Regions from separate parts of the Homo sapiens genome. Here region 2 is reported to be linked to region 1. The links are microRNA targets in miRTarBase. Many come from high-throughput screens and were not tested one by one. Region 1 holds a microRNA gene; the other region holds the end of a gene's coding sequence.

What was found. Region 1 holds the annotated microRNA hsa-miR-3158-5p (CCUGCAGAGAGGAAGCCCUUC, at 4,100-4,120, opposite strand). A microRNA usually pairs through its seed, bases 2 to 8, with sites in the 3' UTR of a target mRNA and lowers its output. Matches are read on the target gene's strand: a 7mer-m8 pairs with bases 2 to 8, a 7mer-A1 pairs with bases 2 to 7 and ends in A, and an 8mer does both.
Region 2: the mRNA of UBE2H is a reported target of hsa-miR-3158-5p. Seed matches in the 3' UTR shown: 7mer-A1 at 4,321-4,327 and 7mer-A1 at 3,322-3,328.

The regions. Positions count from the first base shown.
Region 1 is chr10:101,597,366-101,604,486 of GRCh38, forward strand. MIR3158-2 (microRNA 3158-2) reads right to left here and starts at 4,132; the gene lies at 4,052-4,132. It overlaps DPCD (deleted in primary ciliary dyskinesia homolog (mouse)), which reads left to right. Exons shown (of 6, transcript NM_015448.3): 3 at 3,373-3,497; 4 at 3,838-3,971. It overlaps MIR3158-1 (microRNA 3158-1), which reads left to right and starts at 4,052; the gene lies at 4,052-4,132. RefSeq lists an enhancer at 1-201 and a silencer at 5,521-5,680.
Region 2 is chr7:129,829,191-129,836,311 of GRCh38, forward strand. It overlaps UBE2H (ubiquitin conjugating enzyme E2 H), which reads right to left. Exons shown (of 7, transcript NM_003344.4): 7 at 1,542-5,871. The coding sequence ends at 5,747. Among named protein-coding and RNA genes, the nearest start is that of MIR183, 58 kb to the left of the region's middle. RefSeq lists enhancers at 5,471-6,130, 6,865-7,121.

The DNA of each region.
Region 1 (7,121 bases):
GTTTTAAGGCAGAAAAGAAGAATCCTGCATCCAGTTGAAGCTGCAGGGAACATTTAGGGAAGGGGAATGTAATTATCCACATTGGAAGTGGGCCAGGGTTTGGAGCTTTGGGGAAAGAGGCCTTTAGGACTTCTACTTTCCAGCCCACCTGAAAGATGGGGCCTCCTTTCAGCAGTCTGGGACATCAGCCTGCTTCCTGCTGATTTAGGAAAAAGCCCCCAGGCGCCACCTCCTTTATATATTCCCCATCAGACTCTTCACCGGGGTGGAAAGTCTCTTTTCCAAGGTCTGGCTGGGGCTCAGCTGGGAAGATATGACAGCGTCCCGGGAAGCTGCCTCACACCAGTTTGGGTTTAACATATAATCAAATCAGAGTGACAGCAGATGGAAACAGTCTTCTGTTGCCGCAGGAGCCGTCCTTGAGTTCAGAAACAAAGACGGGGGCAAGAAAGACAAGACAAAGTGTGCATTTGTACATGTGTGTTCACACCCATGCACTTGTGCATAGGAAAAATAAGAAGGACTTCCCCAAAATCTTTTATTGGGTCTTATCTCTAGAGGGAATGGGAAAGGAGACTTTCTTCTACATTCTAACAAAGAATTTAATTCTCAAGGTGTTTAAACAAAAAATAAAGGTGAAGCAGCCAGAGGTGTCAAGTTCCCTGAGTGGTTTTTAAGGTCAGAAGTAAGGAAATCAGCAGCTGACTTTCTTCCTTCTTTGAGTACTTCTTGGGAAGTTTTCTGTGTAAAACTCAAAATTTTTTGGAGTAAAAGTGCACAGAAAACCCTGGGGTGGTTGTCGTCCCTCCAGGCCACCTTGGTGCATTATTATGCATTAGGACACCCATTTTAGCAAGGCCCATGACTTACAGGGGCACCTCACTTATCCAGCCCTAGGTCGTGAGGTAGTCCTCATAATTTACTTTTTCAGATAATCAAAGCTTACCCTTTAAAGGCCAAATATAAAAAATAAATTGAGCTACTTAAAAAAAAACAGAAACCTTTCAAAATATTACATGTGCTTATTGAACACTTTCAGAATAAAGTTTTATTAATAATTCAAATTCTGGATTTGGAGTTAGGAGACCTGGAGTTTAGCCGTGGCATTTGTAAGATTGTCTCCTTGAGCCTCAGTAATTCTTCATAGTCTGTTTCCTAGAGAGTAGTGGCAAGGGTTGAAAGAGAGCAGTCAGGGAAAAAATGCTATTTCTCATTTTAAAAATACAGACATTGGGTAGATGCTTTCTTTTTTTTTTTTTTTTTTTTTTTTTTTTTTGAGACGGAGTTTCACTCTTGTTGCCCAGGCTGGAGTGCAATGGCACAATCTCAGCTCACCACAGCCTCCACCTCCCAGGTTCAAGCGATTCTCCTGCCTCAGCCTCCCCAGTAGCTGGGACTACAGGCGTGTGCCACCACACCCAGCTAATGTTTTATTTTTAGTAGAGACGGGGTTTCTCCATGTTGGCCAGGCTGGTCTCGAACTCCCTCAGGTGATCCGCCCGCCTTGGCCTCCCAAAGTGCTGGGATTACAGGCATGAGCCACCACGCCCGGCCTGGAGTAGATGCTTTCTAAAGGAACTTCCACCTTTAAAATCTGTGATGGTTGTGTTCTATTATAAAGTGGCACCATTGGAGTCTAAGGGTGCTTGTTTGCCCTTACACTAAATGGTCCCAAGTGTTTATGTGGTTCTGACACTGCCGTCCAGTGTGAGTTGTCCCCGATACCATTGTCAATATGCCTGAGAAAAAAAGTAATTTCCTGCCTTATTCTACACACAGCATTTTATACCTAGTCTGAGCGAGAATCTGAGAGTGATCTTTCCTATAGTATAGAGTAGGGTACATGGATCTTTTCACAATAAGCTGCTGCTCGGAGGCATTTGTCACTTCTGAGTTTGCAACTGTGTCAGAGGCCCCCAGAAGGCTGCTTCCAGTGAAGTGAGGTATTAACACTGAATAGATTTGGATATACTCCTGGTCACAGTCCGTTCACTTAAGAGAGAAGTATTTGTGGGGGAAAAAAGTTGCCTATAAAGCATATTTCCAAGTTTTACTCTTCCTTATTAATTTTCATTATAAACTTGGAAATGTGTTTCTAGGGAGAATTTTTGGCCCTAAGAGGTAATAAAATCACACTGCAGAATGCAGCAGACCTTATAAAAGCACATATTTAAGGGAAAATTCTAATTTTACAGCACACTTTTGTGTTCAGCTTGTGTGCCTTACTTATACCGGTGAGGGCGTTTGGATTTGACACAGCTGCTCAAAAGGTCTAAAGTAAAACCGCCGGCTGCCTAGTGCTGAGAACCTGACTGTAGCTCTCAACTCCTACCTGGAAAAAGACACAAACAGAAACAACTGTAACTGAGTACTGTGCACTTTTTGAGTTGTTTAGCTCCTTAAACAGCTACAGAGGCTGCTGGTCTTTAGCACCAGCTGGGCTCCTCAGGCTGGAGGATACCATAGTGGGCAGCCCCGGATTCCAAATGCAGCAGGAAGGGAAAGGAACTGGGGGATAGGAGGTCATGGCTCAGAAAAGATCCCCCTGCAGTGATGGACCGCATGGTTCCTGAAAATGAAAATCTCAGCAGGGGTTTTCAGGTAGTCCATTCAACTAGTTTCTTGATTTATAATTTTCATAATATATGTGCCTTAAAATCTTATGCAAGCATCTGGGTTATGAAACAAGGTAAAATAGAGATGGTTATTTGCATTCTAGAAGGATTCCCTTTTACAAAAAATTCACATTAGATCTTTTATAAACCGTGCATTTAAAATATGGCATGTGCCTACGATTTTGTTTAAATGCAGCTTTGGAGCGTTTTTTTGTTTTTGCTTTTTTCTTTTTTTTTAAGCAAGGTATACCTGAAAAGAGTGAATTTCTATATTTGGACTTTCTGAATCATGATACAGACCTGCCGAACAGCTTTCACCCTCTTAATTATTTTTTCCTCTGCATGTTTTTGAGGGAAAAAGTGTGCTTCAACTCCTTTTTGGGATCCAAATTTTCTCCATTACCAGAAACAACCCTTTTCCTAATCTTCACATCTTCTCCTTGCTTGAAGCCACACCTGAGGGTTTCTTGACTCCACTTGGCTCTTCTCAGAGCTTCATTCCAGTTCCTTTTGCCTGAGCACCCATGAGATGCGCTTTGAGGGTTGTCTAATGTTGAAATGCTCTACTGAAATTTCAGAAGTTGTGAGGTCCCTCCTTAGATTAACAAAGCTGAGAGTAAAGGCCCAACACTCCCACTTTCATCTTGTGCTAGTTACCTAGTGTGGTGCCGGTGATTCAGCAGAAAAGAGCAGAGACCCTCTCTTCACTCTCATCCTGATGCTTGCTTCTCATCCCGATGCTTGCTTCTCTCCCCAGTGAGAAAGTGGCGTGTGAAAAGTGCCCTGGGAGCCATGGGCCAGTGGCAGCTTGAAGTAGGAGACCCAGCGCCCCTAGGAGCAGGGAACCTGGGGCCTGAACTCATCAAGGAAAGCAATGCCAATGTACGTCCATCTGTCCAGGTGTCTTGCACGGACTGAGGTGGGGGTGGGCTGTGGGCTGCTGGCTCTTGAGGGCAGGGACCATGTCTTGTTCACCTCCTCGCCTCCAGTGTGCCACCTGGACACAGCACTCTATAAATGTTTGTTTGAATGAATACAGACATTTTGGCTTGATCGTCCCAGGGCGGGGGCTCAGGGCCTGGAGTGCTGTAGCAATAGCAGCGTCAGAGGGGAGCAGTGGAGAAGAGCTGAGGGTCTTGTTGTGCCCCGGGGTAGCGCTCTGATGAGGGTGGAGCCTTCCCTTCCCCAGGAACAGTCCTCGAGTTGGATTTGCCTTCTGCAGCCTATCTTCATGCGCAAGGACACCAAGATGAGTTTCCAGTGGCGGATTCGAAACCTCCCCTATCCTAAGGATGTCTATAGTGTCTCTGTGGACCAGAAGGAGCGCTGCATCATTGTCAGAACAACCAACAAGAAGTGAGTAGCGTGGAAGGCACCCTGTGTGCTTGTGTATGAGCGGGGTGTAGGGTGGGGTTTGATCTGGCGTTAGGATCATTATTCAGGCCGGTCCTGCAGAGAGGAAGCCCTTCTGCTTACAGGTATTGGAAGGGCTTCCTCTCTGCAGGACCGGCCTGAATAATGTAATCAGCTCCATCGGGGAAGAGAAACTTGAATGAGTATCTAGTATAGTACCTGGCATAGATAGGGGCTCAGTAAATATTTGTTGAATGAATGAGATGATGAGGGAAATCACAGGACCATTAACTTGTGGTCTCAGGTGGTTCTGCTGAAAGGTTATTATGACCTTGGTCTCCTGACTGGAGCCAGGCCTTGGTAAGGGTGGCCTGGTGACATCACTGTCAGAGCTGGCAGGGAGCCATAGCTTGGAAGGCACCCCTGTCTGAAGTGGGAGTGACAGTCCTTTAAAGCAGTACTTGACAGCAGTTTAAAGCAGACTGGGCAGCAGTAAACCTAATCCCTCCCCAGACTGACAGTGGGGCAGATGCTTGGGCCGCTTGGAAGTCTCTTGCATAATGCTTCAAAAGGGGTACTCAACTTCCCTTTGTGGTCCCCTAGAGGGGAGGCAAACTGCAGGGGTTGAAAGGACAGAAGGTGGCCACAGTGCATTTCCATTTTGGAAATGCATTGATCTCATTTAGGTTTCTGGAGCCCTGACTGATCACAGGAGAACAATGCCCTGTGTGAGGCCTGAAGGGAATGACCCTGAAATGAATCAATCTTGACCTGGGCTAGAGAGAATACAGTCTAGGGACAACTCCCACAAAATAGATTTGGGCATTGAGATGGGAGGTTTTATAAGTTACCTGTCTGCAAGCTGTGAAGCCATTCAACATGCCTCATGGGGATGCCCCCACCCATCTCTTGCTTTACATGCAGTAATGGGGACACAGCTCCTTGTGCATCTCCTCAGGTGATGTGGTGCCAGTCTCCCCTTCCATCTCCCTCAGGCTCACGAGGCCCACAGGGAAGCAGGGTAGCTCCCAGACTCCCCCATCGCAGCCCTGGGTGCTGCCATCCTCTTGTGACCCCCATATCCCATTGCTTTGGCAGGGTTAAGAGGACAGGGGAAAGGGTGGAGATGGATGAATTAATTTCAGGATTATTGCTGTACATGCAGCCAGCAGCCCCTGCAGTGGGCCTTGTCTATAAATATAAAGTCATAATAATAAGGGTTTGTGTTTATAAAGCACTTTGAAGCCCTCAGATAAGAGGCAGTTTATTCCCGTTATTGTTCTCATCATTAACAGGAGTCACTGCCTAAAGTGGAATTTAGCAATTTCAGACAACAGAGAAATTGCCTGTAGGAGAACAAACTCCATGCTTCAGCAAGCATTCCTTGGTGGAAGAGGCCTTGGGTCCAAACTGGGAACAAAAGTGCTTCTGATAGCACTTGAATCTGCAGCCCAGCACTTTGTGAAGCTGGCTGCTGCCTCTTTTTTGTCCCCCAGAGGTCACTGTCGAATACAGATATCAGACAGAAATGTGATTACCAGGGAGTGAGGAAAGAGGCTAGCTAGCTCACCAAAAAATTCATCTGCCAGCATATCCTCTGGGTCCCATCTCCTGCGCACATCCAGCCATAGGTGGCGCTGTTGGCCAGGAGCTCCATGGCTGGAGGCCCAGGCTAGCTCTCAAGGCAAGCAGGGGTTGTTGGACATTTTTGAAATGATGGGTGAGGCCAGGTGGGATGGGAGTGATGCCCCTGGAGGGGCAGGGCTGAGGGTTGGATTCCCATAGAGGACAGAGGAGTGTTTCAGGGCCCACTTTGGAACCCACACTGAGCCTCTGGTCCAGTGTCCCAGCCTGGCTCATCCCTGCCCTCCTCAGGTCTCTCTGTTGGGAGGTAACCTAGAGGCCGCTGAACCCTTAGCCAGATCGTTCCCGAACCTAGTGGCATTTTTACCTTCTACCTGGAAGAATGTATTTTATACCTTTACTCCCATTAATTATATAGAACTCAATGGGTATTCCTTTATTATTATTATTAATTTGGAAGGGAGAGATTTATTTCTCATCAGGGGTTACAGCCTGCATAGACATTCTTTTTTATTTTTATTTTTATTTATTTATTTTTTTTTTAAGAGATGGAGTCTTGGCTGGGCGCGGTGGCTCACGCCTGTAATCCCAGCACTCTGGGAAGCCAAGGCAGGTGGATCATCTGAGGTCAGGAGTTTGAGACCAGCCTGGCCAACATGGCGAAACCCTGTCTCTCTAAAAATACAAAAATTAGCCAGGCGTGGTGGTGCATGCCTGTAGTCCCAGCTACTCGGGAGGCTGAGGAAGGAGAATCGCTTGAACCCAGGAGGTAGAGGTTGCAGTGAGCCAAGATCATGCCATTGCACTCCAGCCTGGGTGACAGAGTGAGACTCCATCTCAAAAAAAAAAAAAGAGATGGAGTCTTGCCCTATTGCCCAGGCTAGAGTCCACTTCTTGCAATCATAGCTCACTGTAGCTTTGAACTCCTGGGCTCAAGGGATCCTCCCGCCTCATCCTCCTGAGAAGCTGGGACTATAGGCGCATACCACCCAATCTGGCCAAGTTTAAACAATTTTTTATAGCGTTGAGGGTCTCTCCATTTTGCCCAAGCTGCTCTCAAAATCCTGGGCTCAAGTGATCCTCCTGCCTTGGCCTCCTGAAGTGCTGAGATTACAAGCATGAGCCACCACACCCAGACCAGGGTGGCCATTCTGGCAGGTGGGGAAGTGTGGCCTCTGGCCAGAAGCCAAAAACTCAATGGCTACTCCCTTCCACAGTGTTTAGCTTTTTAAGGATATAGTACATTTAAAATCTGTTTTCTGATCATCATTCTGTCAGGAGGTGGACAGGATCCATACTTTTATTCTTGTGTTATAGATGATTATATAAATGTATATATAAAGTCAGCATGATGAACCAGCTTGCTGAAAGTTAGTGACTGTCTCTCCTGATACTCAGACATCTGCACTTCAGAAATGCACATCATGGCATTTCTCTCTGATTTGACCTCTTCCTTCACCTGGAGGTTCCATAACCTGCCCCAGTTCTAATATTCTGGAATGTGGTTACTAACCAAAGCCAGAGTTTCTTTACCCATACTTGCCTTGTCTCTGAAGAGCTGGGTTGGTG
Region 2 (7,121 bases), not on the chromosome of region 1:
AGTCTTCAGAGCCAGCAAGAAAGCTGTGGGGCTCAGAGCCCACTAGCTTTCTTTTCCAGGACAACGTGCCTCAGAAACCCCGGTCCCCTTCCCAGGAAAGGAACAATGACTCAGGCAGGTAGTGACAAGCCACCTGCCACTTGGGAAACAGCTAGACTGAGGCTGAGAGGTTGAGTGGTGCTGGGTGAGATTACTGGGGTTGGTGGAGGGGGGAGGTCGGGGGACCCAAGTGCCGGCGACTGCACTGAGACTTCTCCTGGGAGGGGTTTAAAAGCAGCTGCCTTATTGAGATCAATGGAATGACTGCTCACGTGACCCATGTACCTCTTAAGTCCCCTTCAGGCTGGAAAGTGCTCTACACCCCCAATGCTCTGAGTCTAAAAACTCTAAACCTGTGTTGAAACGCTGGTGTTTCGTGGTTAATATACAGCATCCTCTCTCAGTTACTCTATCCTATGACGGGGCACTGTTTCGCAGCCTGGGTGGAGTTGAGTCACAAGGTGGCAGAGTCAGAACCTACTAGTCTAGGGATGTCAGTTTACAGCTCAGTACCCAAGGTCCATGAAAGCCCAGTGAGGAGCCTGAAGTTGCACAGCTAAAGGAAGGGCTGGGACTCGAACTCATGGCTCTGTGGTTCAGTCCTTTGGCTAAAGGGTCCATGAACGCCACCCACAAAGAATGTATTGAATGTTTTGCTTCTGGGCTCTGGAGGCATCCAGGGTAGCTGGGGGGTTCCCTGCCAGTGAGGAGGGAGCAGGCACTGGCACACCATTCCTCAGTAGCCCGACCTCATTCAATCTGGCAGGTAGGTATGAAGCCGGGTCAACCGGCGCGAATGCATCAGCATGTAGGGAAGGAGAAAAAGGAGTTTAGGGGAATAAGGAGAAAACAGTGGAAAAGAGCTGGAATGAGAACACGCGAACAAAGCAACACTATTTCCTTTGTCTTAAGGTCCTGCTAACAAAACCGTCTCCATTAGACTGAGCGGCATCGCCATCTGGTGGTAACTAAAGGCAAACGCTTTAGAAAGGAATCGAAACGGTCTAATCCAGCGATTAGCATTTTACCATGCAAAACCCACCGTTCCTCATCTCCCAGGAGGCTTAGCACTTGGCAGAGGACCACCTGTTTAGGCAGATCAGTCCCAGCAGGAAGCTGCACTGTCCTTGAACTCCAGGCCACGGAGTATCCTCACTCAGCGTGAGTTGACAGGGCTTAGAAGGTTTAGGCATGGGGGTAGATAGGGACCTTCGGGCTTTCCACGGCTCTAGTGGAGGAGCCTCACAGCCCCGTTCATAGCCAGCAGTTGTGCATCTGAGTTCCAGGTTCAAGGACAGGCCTCTGGGCAGAGCCTCTTGGTTATTACTGCCTAAGGGTGCCACTCCCTTCCCAAACTAATTTAGTCATCTGCATTCTAAGAGCTGCTCAGCCAAAAGAAGCCAGCGTCTGCTGCTCAAAGGAGCCAGAACAGAGAGGGTATTTTAGAAAACCAGCTGAGAGTAATCATGAGGGCTATTATCTTATTGATCAAGGTCCAGCCATTTGCCAAGGTATATACACGTTTATTTAAAAAAGTTTACAGTTTTCATTATACACAACTATTAAGAGGTTATAGTCAGAGGAGGCATGTGTCCTGTTGACAGACGTGCCTACTAGATCATCACAATGCAAGGAGAAAGGTGGAAGGGAGGAGACAGGGCGAGGAAAAATAAGCGATAAAAAGCTTCAGATTTCAGTTAGGGGCTGGCAGTCCCTTTTATCTTTTCAAGTATCACACAATATGTACCAAATACAATCTGTAAATAATGGCCATTTCTTCCCAAGCCCACAGCCAAGATGAGTGTTAGGCTAAATTCAGAGCCCTGGCTCTTCCTCAGATGAGTGGAAAACCTGCGCATGACAGGGCCGGCTCCCCCTTCTCAAAGGGCTTCCTCCCACTCATCCCATCCCTAACAGAATCGCCGAGGTGTTCACGGGCCAGAGAAAGCACAAACATGGATTCAGAAGTCCAAAGAAATGCAGTTCGTTGCGCCCAATCAGAGATAGATGATTTCATTCAACAAGGCTGGAAGCCCAGTTGGGAAGTCGATAAAAAATCTTGCTAACTTTTTTAAATGGCTTTTACTTTTCTAAGTCACTGAAACAAGGAAGGGCCACATGCCATTTAAAATCAAACACTAGTTCCCAGAGACTTGGTGTCCAGAAACTTGACCCACAGAGGCTAGCGGAGGATCTGTCTTTCATGATTCTCAGCCATCCCAACGGGAGGCCTAACATAAAGCATGTGCCAGGCCAATGCCAACTAGGACTTCAGGGGGCCTTTGGAGGGAAAAATTCCTTTGAGAGGAGACATTCCTCAGGAGCTTAGATCAGCCAGCTGGCAGTCAGAACAGCTTTTGAAGTGGATGAGAAATGTTAGGTACTGGAGAGATGATATGGCAACTCCTGATAATGACCTCACTAGGATAAAATGCTGGTTGAAACTGCACAGTAACCTCAAGGAGGGTGATGAAATTGACGACAAAGCCAAATGTCAGTGTCTAAGATGGCTACCACTGACCCTGTGCCCAAAAGCCCCCCGGTGCTGGGGCTTCCAGAGGGAGCCCAAGGGTGGTGGATTCAATGTTGCCAGGTTGCAACCATCTTGCTTGTTGGTGTTTGGCAAGAGCTTGAGCTCAGTTATGTGAACAGGGGCAAAGAATGGCTTGTGCTGGTAAAACTCAAGGGAGGATCCAAAAACTATGGGCACTAAAAAGGGGAGGGAAACCGCCAGAAGTGGCTCTGACCTGCTGCCGCTGCCACCACCTCTAAAGCCAAGAATGTAGAGCCTCTGCCCAGGGATCTGGATGCTCTCCTGAGTGTTGGAAGGGCAGCCTGGAAAGGCATTTGGTGGTGAAACACCGCTGCTCCAGACTTACGCTACCATCTATTGTTGGGGGCCCAGAGTCCTTGGATTCACTGCCAGGCCTTCTTCCAGATCTTTCTGTACCTGTGTGTTTGGGCTCCTACTCCCACCTCTCCCAGGCGCAGGGAGAGGACAAAAAGCATAAGGGACTCTGTTCAACCCAGCAAAAGTCAGTTTCCCAGTGGAGAGGCAAAGCCCCACCCAGAACATAAACATGCATGGGACCAAGGTTAGTGCCCAGACAGGACAGACTTGCACAGAACAAGAGGGCACAGTGGGATCCATGCGGCAATTACAGGAGCTTCCAGCACTAACAGAGGAGCCTTATCCCACCTTCATCACACACACTTAGATGGACACACACACACTCTCGCTCACACTCTCACACATGTGCACACATACACACACTCTCTCTCTCTGCAGCCACACTCAAATCTGCTAAACTCCTACAACCTCCCCCAGCAGGTCATTTGACAATTCTGCATCTTCCGCTCTCTGGTGCTGGGGCTCTGGTCAGAGGCGAGCCAATGTCTTATCATTAGAGAGATGTGGGATTAGGTAAGGGGCAGAGTCATGGCACTGCTCACACACCTTCCCGAAACTGGGGTCTATTCAGTTTTTTGACAAGATCAAAAGCAATTCTTAACTGGTCATTATTTTTTTTTAAGGTAATTAGAACACTATTGTTTATACAATATTGAAAAAATACAATTTTTTATTGTTTGAACTCAAATCACCACCCAGCACTTTAAGCCTACCCTAAATAGCACCTACAATAAATGTCATAGCACAAGCAAACTGCAAAGTCAGCAGGTAAGCAAGTTAGACAGTGCCAGCAGAGAGACCCTCCCTCCCCCAAAGCAATGAGAAGACAGCGTGCTAGGTAAGAGTGAAGTACACCATTACATGTTAAATAGTTAATACTACCCTTCCAGCAAGCCACAGATGCTAGATGGATAACTCAGTACGGTTAACTAACCACAGCCCTACATCACTGCACTTTTTTTTTTTTTTAAAGAAAACCTTTTGCTTCATGCCCGTAATTAACATAAAGTAAGTAAATTCTTTGTCTTTTTATTTAGGAAAATAATCATGCTAAAAGCAAGTTGTACTTTATATAGATTTTCAAACAAAAGATTGATTGTGCTTTTTGAATAAAAAAGATAGGGTATCTTCCAACCTCACTGACTTAAACCTTGTGGAATACAGCACTTCTAAACTAAAAACACACGTCAAAAAGAAAAATTAAATAATCCCAGTGGGATGCTCAAAAATCGTCTTTAGAAGGTTTTAGGATTGGCTAATTCTGCTATTATCTTATTGGCTGCGGCAAAAAAAGAACACAGAGCTGCTGTCTAAAATTTCTCCAAACTCCCCTCCGAGTTCAGCAGGCAACACTCAGATTTGAAAGAAACTCTGCAGCAACCTGGACATATGGTTAGCTGAGTCGACATTTGATTAGCAGGCATTTTAAACTGATTTCCTCTTAACATACGCAGGAGAGAAAACATTTTCTTCCTGCAGGGCATGTTCTACTACATCATATTTCTGAATCCCTTCTTCCTATTCGGTCACTCTCTGAAAAAAGCTGGTTTGTTTTTCCCATGTAGAATCACTCTGGGTACAAGAACCTTTATTTGTTCCAATTATTATTTGTTTTAAATTTAGAACCTGTGTTGGGTCTAAAATACCCATTTCCCACTCCCACAAGCAGATGATGACCAGGCTGCTGCCAAGAGCAGCAGAAAAAGGGAAAACCAAACCAGAACATGAAGGCAAGTACCCAGGGCTTTGCAGTCACCACGTGGGTCGTCTTCTCAAGTCTAATGGTCCATGAGCGGCTTGTCCAAGGAGGCGGCCGCCTCTTGGTAGGTGAAGATGAAATCTGCAACCTTTCTAAGCACAATACACACACACACACACCAAAAAAATAACCCCCCCAGAAACACAACCCTCATATTTAAAGCTCTTAAGTTCAGGGTAGCGGTCTCAAACTGCCAAACACTAGGATGAGGATGTGACTCTGCATGTGTTTTGGATGAGAGGAAGCATCGTCCCAGTCACTTTTCTCCTCCTGTGCTGTCCTTTCAAAAACAGGTCTGGATTTCACGCTCTACCCCAAGAAAAAGAACTGGTTCAGAAAACACTTCCCCAAGTTTCTCCAACAGAACACTGTGGCTGCAGGGCCTGGTAGTGTGAAGGGCAGCAACTGACATATAAAAATGTACTTAAAATCAGAGTCAAAAAATGGTTTTAAGTTTTAATACTCTTAATTAGCTCCCTGCTTTATACTGTAACTCCACAGAAGACATAGGGCCACCTAGGATTCACAGGAAGGAGCAGCTCTGATTCTTACATGGCTGGCTCCGATGCCCCCACAGCAGGCCTCTTCCTCCCCAAGTTTTTCCTCTCCATTTCAAAAAAGCACTATTTTATCTTCACATCCAAGAGCTGGTTGGTTTGGTTTGTTTCTTTGGAAACCAATAAAAGAAGCAATTTTTTCCTGTTCTTTTTACTCACATCTACCTATCAGAGCGGCTATTTCCTTCGACAGTTCAGTAGCACACAGGCTGACTTGGCCACATGGACTCATGAATGCATGCATTCAGACCGCATATTGCTACCAAATGGAATGTGGGAATATGCTATGCACCTCAGGTTGAGAAATGACCAAGAAATCAAGATCTAAAGGGTGATATATAATATATATATATCAATGCTATTATTCATAAAAACCTTGTTTAGTAATAAAAAAAATTGCTTTGTTTAAATATGAATATTATAGTCTGCTTCTCATGGTTAGGAAATAATAGTCTTTCTGAAAAGCAGGTGCTTTTTCTACTACAACTCCATATCCTGGGCCTCATCTTCGGAAAAGTCAGACATAGAGCTCTCCGATGAGCTGTCCCCGGTACCCTCTTCCTGTTCTTTCAGCGCCTCCTCCGTGGCGTATTTCTGGATGTACTCTGCACGGGGTGGGAGAAAGACAACAAGGGCAGTGAGTGGGCAGGCATGTGCTTTGGCGACCCCAAAAAGCTGGCAAGGCTGCGGAGGTTCAAACTTACCTTGAACACCAGGGGGGACAAAGATGACAGTAATCATGATCACTACAGCTAAGGAGAATCCCATAGGGAGACTTCTTTGGGACAGGGTTTCTGCATTTTGCCCCCTGAGGAAAGGGGTATTGGGAAGAGCAACACAGCAGGCTCAGCTTGCAGGGGAATGTGTGTGCTGCAGCACCCCAAGAACTCTTCAGGGACCAGGGAAATGGGAGCCCCACGCTTTCTTTTTACTTTCATCTCCCAGATAGTATAGGACCAGTCATGATTCCATAGTAATTTATAAGGAAATCCTTCATCATTTTTAGATCTGCAGTTACATAATTACGGTCAGTCCAGGTCTATTATTTTAGGAATCGATTTTAGTCTAAACAGATCCTGCCTGTCAGGTTTTTGAAGCAGCTGGCAAAAACCATCGCTCAATCTGCTCAGGACTAAGCTGCTATACGGAGACACCACTCGGCTCTGAGTGGTTTTTCCATGTATAATTTACCTGAAGGTAGATTTCCGCTGCTACAGCCTTGGTGGAACCCTAGGCTGAATAAGACTGCTGAAACGGCTTTTAAGAACTGCTGAATAAACAAACTTGTTCCTAAAAACTCTAAGTGCATACTGTTTTCAAGTGAACAGCCTCCACACAATAGGAAAAGACATGACAGAAACCTATTCAAAATGCAAGCCACACAAAAACACACCCTTGTGGCTTTGTTTTTCCTCCTATAGAGTTGCGGGGACTCACTGCAATAGGAAGATAAGCTGAATGGCCAAATGGGCCTACCAGATTTGAATAACTAGCACAGGGCCTAGCTAAGAATGTTTTTATATTTTAAAAACTGTCTTAAAAAATAATAAACAGAATGTGTGATAAAGGCCACATCTGGCCAATGTGGTCCTTTACAGAAAAGGTTTGCAGACTTGAGACTTAGAGCCCTTCAAATTCATTATAACAAAATTTTATGCTAATGATTTTGATGAGATTAAAGTAGCCCATGATTAGGTAGGAATTTACCTTAATTGAGAAATATTTATTCAAACTTTAACAATTTTATTTTTAACCTCTAATGGGTTGACTATTTTGCGTCTTCCTTTGTAGAAGATAAATATTGACCTTTTTTTGACACTAGAATTTGATACTATCAGCCCTCTTTAATGTATTC